Homo sapiens: one gene and its partner. The protein of the gene in region 2 purifies or fractionates together with the protein of the main gene of each other region. This does not show direct contact. Each region holds a gene or a part of one and is shown on either strand. Other genes may lie near its edges.

What was found. The genes of interacting proteins can lie anywhere in the genome.
Region 1: the proteins of SPRYD7 (region 2) and SLC25A12 purify together in Homo sapiens (affinity purification with mass spectrometry; one large-scale study listed by BioGRID and IntAct). This does not show direct contact.

What each region holds. Positions count from the first base shown.
Region 1 is NC_000002.12:171,883,570-171,888,712, forward strand, and holds part of SLC25A12 (electrogenic aspartate/glutamate antiporter SLC25A12, mitochondrial), read right to left. Parts: intron 1-5,143. UniProt on the Homo sapiens protein: Mitochondrial electrogenic aspartate/glutamate antiporter that favors efflux of aspartate and entry of glutamate and proton within the mitochondria as part of the malate-aspartate shuttle.
Region 2 is NC_000013.11:49,932,899-49,938,503, reverse strand, and holds the start of SPRYD7 (SPRY domain-containing protein 7), read left to right. Parts: upstream 1-2,163; 5' UTR 2,164-2,268; coding exon 2,269-2,374; intron 2,375-5,605.

The sequences.
Region 1 (5,143 bases), on a different chromosome or scaffold from region 2:
ATTTACCCCCATACTTAATTACCAATGCTTCAGGCACACTGGCCTTTCTGTTTGTTGAACACATCAAACCCTTTTCTATATCTAAGCTTTGTACGTGTGAGCCCTTTGGAATTCCCTCCACCACTTCACCCTCATTCCCTTTTAGTTCTCAGCTCTTAATATTGCCTCCTAAGGGCCCTTCACTGACCACTCTCTTGAAAAATGATTTAAAAAATGATGGCCCTTCTCATTATTCTGTTTACTTCCTTGGACGTGTCACAATCTGTAGTAAGCTTTTTTTTGTTTGTTTTGTTTTTTGTTTTGTTTTAAGAGACAGGGTCTTACTCTATCACCCAGGCTGGAGTGCAGTAGCATGACCCTAGCTCACTGTAACCTCAGACTCCTGGGCTCACATGATCTTCCTTCCTCAGCCTTCCTAGTAGCTAGGACTACAAGCACAGGCCACCATGCCTGGCTAATTTCTTTTCTTTTTTATCTTTTTTTTTTTTTTTGTAGAGACAGAATCTCACTTTTTTGGCCAGGCTGGTCTCAAACTAGTGGCCTCAAGTGATCCTCCTGCTTCAGCCTCCCAAAGAGGTGGGATTACAGGAATGAGCCAGTGTGCCCAGCCAATCTGTGGGCTTTTTTTTTTTTCCCCCCGAGACTGAGTCTTCCTCTGTCGCCCAGGCTGGAGTGCAATGACACGATCTCGGCTCACTGCAACCTCTGCCTCCTGGGTTCAAGCAATTCTCCCACCTCAGCCTCCCAAGTAGCTGGGATTACAGGCGCCCGCCACCACGCCTGGCTAATTTTTGTATTTTTAGTAGAGACGGGGTTTCACCTTGTTGTCCAGGCTGGTCTCGAACTCCTGACCTCGTGGTCTGCTCTGTGGGCTTTTTTAATTGTCCACCTCGCCCCTAGAATGTTAGGTTCTAGGCTGGGCACGGATGGTGGCTCTCATCTGTAATCCCAGCACTTTGGGAGGCCGAGGCAGGTACATCACCTGAGGTCAGGAGTTCGAGACCAGCCTGGCCAACATGATGATACCCCCATCTCTACTAAAAATACAAAAAAAATTTAGCCAGGTGTGGTGGTGCACATCTGTAATCCCAGCTACTCAGGAGGCTGAGGCAGGAGAATTGCTTGAACCTGGGATGCAGTGGTTGCAGTGAGCTGAGACTGCGCCATTGCACTCCAGCCTGGGCAACAAGAGCAAAACTCTGTCCCCCACCAAAAAAAAAAAAGAATGTGAGGTTCTACCTTCACTGAGGTCCTTTGTATTGTCCCTACCCTCACTAAACAGCTCTATCTTATCTCTATAAAGGTAGAACCTAGTACAGTGCTTAGCCTGGTACATAGTAGGCAATTAAAAGTGTATTGATCGGCCAGGTGCGGTGGCTCACGCCTATAATCCCAGCACTTTGGGAGGCCGAGGAGGGTGGATCACAAAGTCAGGAGACTGAGACCATCCTGGCTAACACGGTGAAACCCTGTCTCTACTAAAAATACAAAAAATTAGCTGGGCGTGGTGGCGGGCGCCTGTAGTCCCAGCTACTCGGGAGGCTGAGGCAGGAGAATGGCGTGAACCTGGGAGGCGGAGCTTGCAGTGAGCCCAGAGACTCCGTCTCAAAAAAAAAAAAAAAGTGTATTGATTGGTAGTAGAACATCACATGGCATTTAATAACACTAATTTTCTTATCTTTTTATTATTTTTCAATCCTTCTGCTTGATTCAAGGACAAAGTCTCACTATCCTGCTAGTCTGCCTTTAATGCCTAATACTGTTCTTTTTTTTTTTAATGAGAACTCTATATAGTTTATGTTAAATACTTTCTAAAGTATTTAGAAAAGGCTGGGCATGGTGGCTCATGCCTGTAATCCCAACACTTTGGGAGGCTGAGGCAGGTGGATCACCTGAGGTCAGGAGTTCGAGACCAGCCTGACCAAGATGGTGAAACCCTGTCTCTACTAAAAACACAAAAATTAGCTAGGCATGTGTCTGTAATCCCAGCTACTCAGGAAGCTGAGGCATGAGAATTGCTTGAACCCGGGAGGCGGAGGTTGCAGTGAGCCAAGATCATGCCACTGCACTCCAGTCTGGGTAACACAGTAAAACTCTGTCTCAATAAATAAATAAATAAATAAATAAATAAATAGGTTATCATCTTCAATTTCCATATTTCTGAGGAACTGGTGAAAACCCTCAATTATAATAGCATGGTTAATAAAACTATAGATCCTTTTCTGTGTGTCTCATACTGGGTTTATTCAATCCAAATTATGCTGGGAAATCCTCTTGTAGCTTCAGGCTCTGAATTGCTAAATTCTTACTTTTTAAATTACTCACTTGCTCAAAGCTTAATACATATACATTGAGACTATTTTTATTTTCCTCTTTATTCTTCCCTCAAGTTAACAACCTAGTATTTATCCTTTCATAACTTTCTCAGTGCTCATTAAATCATACACAAACATATTATATGTAAACATACATGAAATGACTTTGTTTTACAAATCAGAATCATGCTATATATACTTATTTGCATCTTTCTCACTTAATAGTACATTGCAAAATTTCTCTAAATTGGTGGTCTAGGCCTAACTCATTCTTTTTAGTATCTGCATAACTTTCATAGTATAGTTATTCCATAAGTCTTCTACCACTCCTCTTTAATATAATAGCTTTTTTTTTTTTTTTTTTGAGACAGAGTCTCACTCTGTCACTCAGGCTGGAGTGCAGTGGTGCACATGGCTCACTGCAGCCTCAACCTCCTAGGCTTAGGTGATCCTCCCACCTCAGCCTCCCAAGTAACTGGGACTATAGGCTCATGCCACCACCACACCCAGCTAGGTTTTTGTATTTTTTGTAGAGATGGGGTTTTGCCACGTTGCCTAGGCTGTTTTTTTTTTTTTTCTTTTTTGAGGAAAAATTCAGTGCTGCAGTTAACCTTGTACATATATATTCTTTTTTTTTTGTTTTGAGACAGAGTTTCGCTCTGTCGCCCAGGCTGGAGTGCAGTGGCGCGATCTCGGCTCACTGCAACCTCAGCCTCCCAGGTTCACGCCATTCTCCTGCCTCAGCCTCCCGAGTAGCTGGGACTACAGGCACCCGCCACCATGCCCGGCTAATTTTTTTGTATTTTTTGTAGAGACAGGGTTTCACCATGTTAGCCAGGATGGTCTCAATCTCCTGACCTTGTGATCCGCCCACCTTGGCCTCCCAAAGTGCTGGGATTACAGGCATGAGCCACCACATCTTGCCCTATATTCTTATATTTTTACAAATATTTTTATTTCTCTGGGATAAATAATCCAAAAGAAAATACCATTGTTTGTTCAAATGATATTTTCTTTTTATTTTAAACCATTGCCAGCTTGCTTTTCAGAGTCTTTGTTTCCACAAATACTGTATCACCCTTTAATACTTGATAATCTTATTGTTACTCTAATATTGTGGTATACCTTCCACACTTTTGGAAACACAGCCCTAATGTATATTTCAACAAAGAGTAAGGGTCTCCTGCTAAAAGCCCTGCTTTATTCCCTTCTCAGCTCCAGGCTACTGTCAAAAATAAGTAAATAAAATACATAAACTATTTGAATAAAAGAACATATCTTTCTATTAAAAATAAATGTTATTGTAAAAACCCTAAGGAGGAATCGCCCTTTGCTTTACATTAACAGTATCTTCTCCTCTTTATTCTCTAACCTAAAATAAGACAGGAAAAAAGCACATTTTCATAATTTTGTATGGGATACGATCTTCATTGTTACATTGGTGATAATGAAAAAAGAACAAAATTAAAATAATATTTGAGGTCTACATTTCAGTAAATTTTTGATCTGGCAAATATAGTTGCAGTCTTAACATATATTGCCTTTACTATACAACACACCAGCAAACAAAAGAAGCCTATTAACTAAAAAGAGAGAGAGATTAAAAAATAATTCATTTAAATGTTTTTGATAAATCTACTTTGCCACAAGGGACAGACAAAATTAACTCTTCATTTAGAAATTTGTCAGACTTATGTTCCTGCTGTCCCACCTCACCTTCTTCTTCACTGCTTCTATTGTCTCCTTTTGCTACTGTACACTGCTGATGTAGCTAAATTGAATCAATGACAGTGTGTGGGTGAGAGAGGTTAAAAGAAAAAAGGGATAAATCAAGAAATGACAGTTGTAAGGGTGGTAATGGTAAAATCTTAGCTTAAACCAGTTGTAAAATTACAGCACAGCCTAACACATAAGAATTCATTTGTTGTACTCCAATTTCATGAACTTGGCAGAGTGGAGGTGGGCAGAAAAAGGCAGAATCTTAGTGCATACTGTTGTTGTTGATGTTTTTTAACTAATAGAAACATAGCTCATCAAAACTTGAGAAGCAATGAACACCACAGGAAAAATGAACCTATTTCCCTATATTCAAAATAATAATGCTTTACTCTTATAAAGCCCTTCTTATGAACTCCCACACCAATTCTCATACAATTTCACTAAACATAGATACATAAATAAGTCAGTTGCCACTTTCTTTTCTTTTTTCCTTTTTTTTTTTTTTTTTGGAGACAAAGTCTTGTTCTGTCACCCATGCTGGAGTGCAGTGGTATAATGATAACTCATTGTAACCTCGAACTTCTGGGCTCAAGTGATCCTCCCATCTCAGCTTCCAGAGCAGCTAGGACCACAGGCATGTACCACCGCACCCAGCTAAATCTATATACATATATTTGTAGCCATGGAATCTCGCTTTGTTGCCCAGGCTGGTCTTGAACTCCTGGCCTCAAGTGATCCTCCCACCTCAGCCTCGCAAAGCACTGGGATTACAGGTATGAGCTGCCGCACCCAGCTGATATACCAGTACTTTCAAATAAAAATATATATATATTTTTTTAATTATTATTTTTTTTGAGACAGTGAGTCTCGCTCTGTCGCCCAGGCTGAAGTGCAGTGGCACAATCTCGGCTCACTGCAACCCCCGCTTCCCGGGTTCAAGCGATTCTCCTGCCTCAGCTTCCCTAGTAGCTGAGATTACAGGCGTGCGCTACCACATCTGGCTAATTTTTTATATTTTTTATAGAGACAGGGTTTCACCATGTTGCCCAGGCTGGTCTCAAACTCCTGACCTCAAGTGATCCACCCGCCTCAGCCTCCCAAATTGCTGG
Region 2 (5,605 bases):
CCAATGCAGCTGTTTCTGTATCTCACTGCTGATTTCTGTACGTCACTTCCCTCTTTTTGTCTAAAAATTTGTTCTGACCACGAGGCATCCCTGGAGTCTCTCTGAATCTGCTGTGATTCTGGGGGCTGCCCAGTCATTCACTGCTCAGTTTAACTCCTTTAAATTTAGTTCAGCTGAAGTTTTTCTTCTAACAGGAATCAGACTGGTAAGCCTTGAATCCTACCTGTTTATCTCCTGCTCACCTGAAGTTGTAAAGTTTAGTACCTCTAGGCCTATTTCTTCACCTATAAAATGGGGACAATACTGACCTTGAAATCTTGAAATAATTCAACTAGATATATATATATGAACGGTAGAAAAATTTTGTCTCTCCAATATTCTGTTAAAATTCTCACCCCCTGCCCCGCCCCCAGCACTTCCCTGGGGTTAAAAAAAAAAAAAAAAAAAAAAATCAAAGCACTTAATTCCCAGCATAACGATGAAGGTTTGTCATAAAAGAAAATTTCTTGTGTGAAATGATTACCAAGAAAGTACTGCATACGCAATGGGGGAAAAGACCAACCCTCAATCAGTTTAATAATCACCTTGGTTATTAAATTCTATGGTAACTTAATTTCAACGTACAAAACTTTCCCTTAGTATTGTAATGAAAACACCATTTATAGAAAGAGAACCAGGAACCTGAAAAATTCCCCTCATTGCATAGATAGAAATCCTCCTTAAAAAACATTTATAACTCGGGTCACTAAAAGTTACGTATGGGAAATCATTATTTAAGTAGTGGGCATTTTATGTCCAGTTTCCCAGGACTTGATGATCCATCCCTAGGGAAGCCTTCAGGATGAAACTGATCTGGGAACAGAGGTTTGAGCTAGGTTAATTCTAGAGGTCGTCCCAGACATTTCCAGATGCCAAGCGGTATCTTTTTTTTTTTTTTTTTTTTTTTGGAGACAGAGTCTCTGTTGCCCAGGCTGGAGGGCAGTGGCGCGATCTAGGCTCACTGTAACCTCCGCCTCCCGGGTTTAAGCGATTCTCGTGCCACAACCTCCTGAGTGGCTGGGATTACAGGCGTGCACCACCGCACCCAGCTAATTTTTGTATTTTTAGTAGAGACGGGGTTTCACCATGTTGGCCATCCTGGTCTTGAACTCCTGACCTCAGGTGATCCGCCCACCTCAGCCTCCCAAAGTGCTGGGATTACAGGCGTGAGCCACTGCACCCGGCCTGAAGATGTAAAATCTACCACGGAAGGATGATCTAAGTGGGGAAGGAGATGACAGGTGACAGCCTCCCGTGTGGAAGCAGAAAGTAGCGGACGGTAGGAGCCGAAGGCTTCCCTCGGGACCCAGCAGACTTCCCGCAGCCTCCTGGGTTCCCGTCACATTCCTCGGAACCCTCAGTGCACCAGACAGGGGGAGCTTGGAAGAGGCAGGTCAAGAATCGCCCCCGACCCCGCCCCAGCGTTCTGCTCCCAGGGCGGCCTCCCACGCGCCCCGGACCACGCAGCCCGATGGGCCAGGTAGGGCGCGTCTCTGCACCGAAAATGCATTAGGGCCCGCGTGAGCCCCGGTGAACATCCACAGTGCAGTCACTAACAGGCATTACTCCTGGGGCCCACGTGAGTCTATTTAGCATGTGAGGGAAACCAGCCACGGCAGGGAGACTGGGGCTCTCCGTGGTGGCAAAGCCTGCTCAACCTGGGCCCGCGGAGGGAAAACTCGGAAGTCATTTCCATTAGCTCCCCTTCCCCCAAACTGATTCGCTTCTGTCAATCCATCCCTAGAAATAATGTCGAGGCCGGGACCAAGGGGTGCTGCGTTTTAAAAATTCTGCATAGGAAAACCCCTGGAAGTACTGAGGGACAGACAGCCCCACTCACCTGTCAGCCCTGGGGGCGTGCGCGAAACCGCCCAAGGAGAAAAAACCAGCTGGTGCGCAGGCGCACGCCGTCCCACATCCGCAGGCCCGCAACGCCACGCCCCCTGCCACGCCTCCGCGCGCCACTAGCCCCACCCGTCTCCCCGGCCCAGCCCGGCCGCTCGCCCTGTCCGGTCTCTCCCCGGCCCCTTGATTCTCCGCGTCTTCCTCGCAGGCCAGCCTAAGCTCAGCCTGCATTGCGCCCTCCCGGCCTAGGGTGTCGCTGTACCGGCCTCCGAGCTCCACATAGACAAGTCCGGACCTCGGGCGGGGGCAGGAGACGGAGCTGAGCGGCGGGGGGCAGTGTCGCCTCGGTCTAGGGACGGCGGCGGAGTCGGTGGTCCCTGCGCGATGGCCACCTCGGTGTTGTGCTGCCTGCGGTGCTGCAGAGACGGGGGGACTGGCCACATCCCTCTGAAGGAGATGCCGGCCGTGCAGCTGGACACGCAGCACATGGGTAAGGGCCCTCCCTTCCCCAGACCCAACGGCTCACGGGGGCCGGGCGCGGCGGGCAGGGGGACCTTCAGGGTCAGAGGGTCCCCACGCTGCCCCGCCGCGCCGGCGACGCTGCGCCGACACCATTTCGTCTCGCAGATCTCTCCAGAAGCCGGCGGACTCCACCTGGGCCCGGTTCTGTGTTCAAGGCTGCGCAGCCCTCTCTGTGTCTGTCATCGCGAATGGGCGTGTGGACCTCCCATTTTCACAGGAATCTCGGAGGCTTCCTCCGGAGATGTCACACGTCCTCGGGCGAGGGGGCGGAGAGTGCCCTTCTGGCGCGCCCCAGTGAAAACCTACACATTTTCAGAATGCTTCTAGGTCCGGTCTTGCTCCTCCTCCTGCCCTGACTGTCGGTCCTGTCTCTTGAGCCCCATCATTTATAGGTTGAATCCTATATTATTGGAAGTAATTTTCCTCTCACCTCCTAAAGTCGAAACAAGGCAGACTGCAGAAGTCTGAAGTCGCACCTCAGGTCAGAACTTGCCATTTCAACTAAAACCTCCCATTGCCCGACTCCTTAGTCATTGTGAGAGGTACTGTAATTTCATCTGACTGGCCTCTTCCCAACAGGTCTAACTGTTGAAAAATAAAATAGCACTTTGCTCCTTTGCATCTTGCTTTATCCTTTTAATTCCAAATCCATATAATTTATCTAACATTCTTCCTCTCCCATCATAGCCTCTTTCACCACCTTATTATTTCTTAGACTTTTCCCAGGTAGTTTCATGCTTCTGGAATGTGGTTCTAGAAGGAGAGATTTCCCAATATAATTATTTCAGTTAGAGTACTGTCTTTTTGTGGATTATTTTATTCTAACTGTACTTCTGCACTTTTGATTTTTTACACGTTTCTGATTGTTTAAAGGACAGTGCATTGAAATAAAAAGGCACTTCTTAATATTTATGATAAAACTCTCTCGCCCAGTTTCCTTATAATTCTGGAAACACTCTGCCCACTGTATTTTTGTATAACACATACTAAATGTGATAACTATATAATCACCTTGTATGTGTGTATTTACTTTTAATTCTCAGATCTCCCAAATGTAGTACAGAACCTTAATACATAAGTAATCTTTAAATTATTTTTTATCCATCATTATTTATAGACGATGGAGTTCAAATTCTATAGTTTTCCTCAGAAAATATTTCCATTTCAGTTACTCATTTACTGAAGTGATATTTATTAAGCAATTATCAGGTGGCAGGCATTGTTATAAGTGCTGAGAATATAGTGAAGGACAACCATACATAATTCCTGGAACTCATGATCAACTGCAGCACTTCTTCCTATCTTTACTGTTAGACTCTTGAATTACTGCAGTCTCCTCTTTGGAGCATTCCTTTTCTCTGTCATCTGTTTCCTCTAGGAAGAGCTGGTCAGATATACTCATTCCACTGTGTTTTATTTCTCCAAAGCTGTCCAGCAACTGTCAGCTACTAACTGGATGAAATAGAGTAATGTCATCTCCAAATTTTCTAACTGCATGGAAGTTTTTTCTTCTTCTTTTCTTTTTTTTTTTTTTTTTTTTTTGAGACGGAGTTTCACTATTGTTGCCCAGGCTGGAGTGCTGTGGCACAATCTCCACTCACTGCAACCTCCGCCTCCCGGGTTCAAGCAATTCTTCTGCCTCAGCCTCTTGAGTAGCTGGGATTACAGGCGCCCACCATCAAGCCCGGCTAATTTTTGTATTTTTAGTAGAGACAGAGTTTCACCATGTTGGTCAGGCTGGTCTCGAACTGACCTCGTGATCTGCCTGCCTCTCAGCCTCCCAAAGTGCTGGGATTATAGGGGTGAGCCACCACGCCCGGCCAGGAAGTTTTTTCTTAGCCTGTCTTTCTATAAACTTAAATTATTCAATCACAGAGGAGCCTGATTTGAGAACCTGAATAAAATGAAAGAAAAGGGTTGTTGAGTTAGAAGAACATGTTTCAAGCATGAATTGATCTTGACTTGAAAATAGAAACACATGGATTTGGTGGTGTGAAAGATTATTATATTAAATAACCTAAAAAATGTGATTGCTTTTTTTTTTTTAACAAAATTGTCTGTATACTTCAAGTGATTCTCCGAGGGTTGTCACTTATTTTAGTGATGTTGTATTACTTAAAACCACTTTGGAATTCCTCTTTTGGAATTTTCTATGGCATAATTTTTGTAAGTATTATCATTGATGCCATATCTTTGGCTTTTAATTGTGAATCGACATTTTAGAAACAAATGACTTCCAAGGCAGCTACTTTGAAAGGGACACCGCTCATTTGGAAATTTATGTTTCTTAAAACATCCTCTGTGGCTATGTTTATGTGGCATTCTGGCTGTACTCAAATTTGCCTTGACCGTCTAAGCAGCACCAATCATTAAAAGTACAGATTCTAAAACCGTCTGTGTACTTAAGAGAAATGGGATAAGCTTAAAATGATTCCCTAATGACTCATAAACACCCTGAATATTCTTTCTTTCTTTTTTTTTCTTTTTTTTTTTTTTGAGAGGGAATCTCGCTCTGTCGCCCAGGCTGGAGTGCAGTGGCCTGATCTCAGCTCACTGCAACCTCCGCCTCCTGGGTTCAATTAATTCTCCTGTCTCAGCCTCCTGAGTAGCTGGGACTATAGGCGCCCACCACCATGCCTGGCTAATTTTTGTATTTTTAGTAGAGATGGGGGTTTCACCATGTTGGCCAGGCTGGTCTTGAACTCCTGACCTCAAGTAATCTGCCTGCCTCAGCCTCCCAAAGAGCTGGGATTACAGGTGTTAGCCACCTCGCCTGGCCAAGAGTGTTATATCCCATTGTGCTCTGCAAAAGTCCTGAGATTCTGATTGTAGTTGATTAGGTCATGTAGCAGTTCTTGACTCAGTTACTGTGGCCAAGAAATGTGGAGGGCACTGATTGCCTTAACCTAGATCAAATGTTGTACACCTGAAGCAGAGATTGAGTCAGCTTTCTTGGAACTGTTTTGATCTCCAGAGGGAAGTCTGTCGGGAGAGGGAGAACAGATACTGCATGTCCACTACAAAGTGCTTAGCACAGCATATTAATTCAACCTTTATCAGTTATTTGATGAGCAGCTGCTCAATGCCAAGCACTGCATGGTCTTTGCCATCAAGGAGGATGCTCTCCAGTTGAAATTACTGGAGGTATATGGAGTAGCCAGATGCAAATTATTTATAAAGGTACTTTCCCAGAATTTGG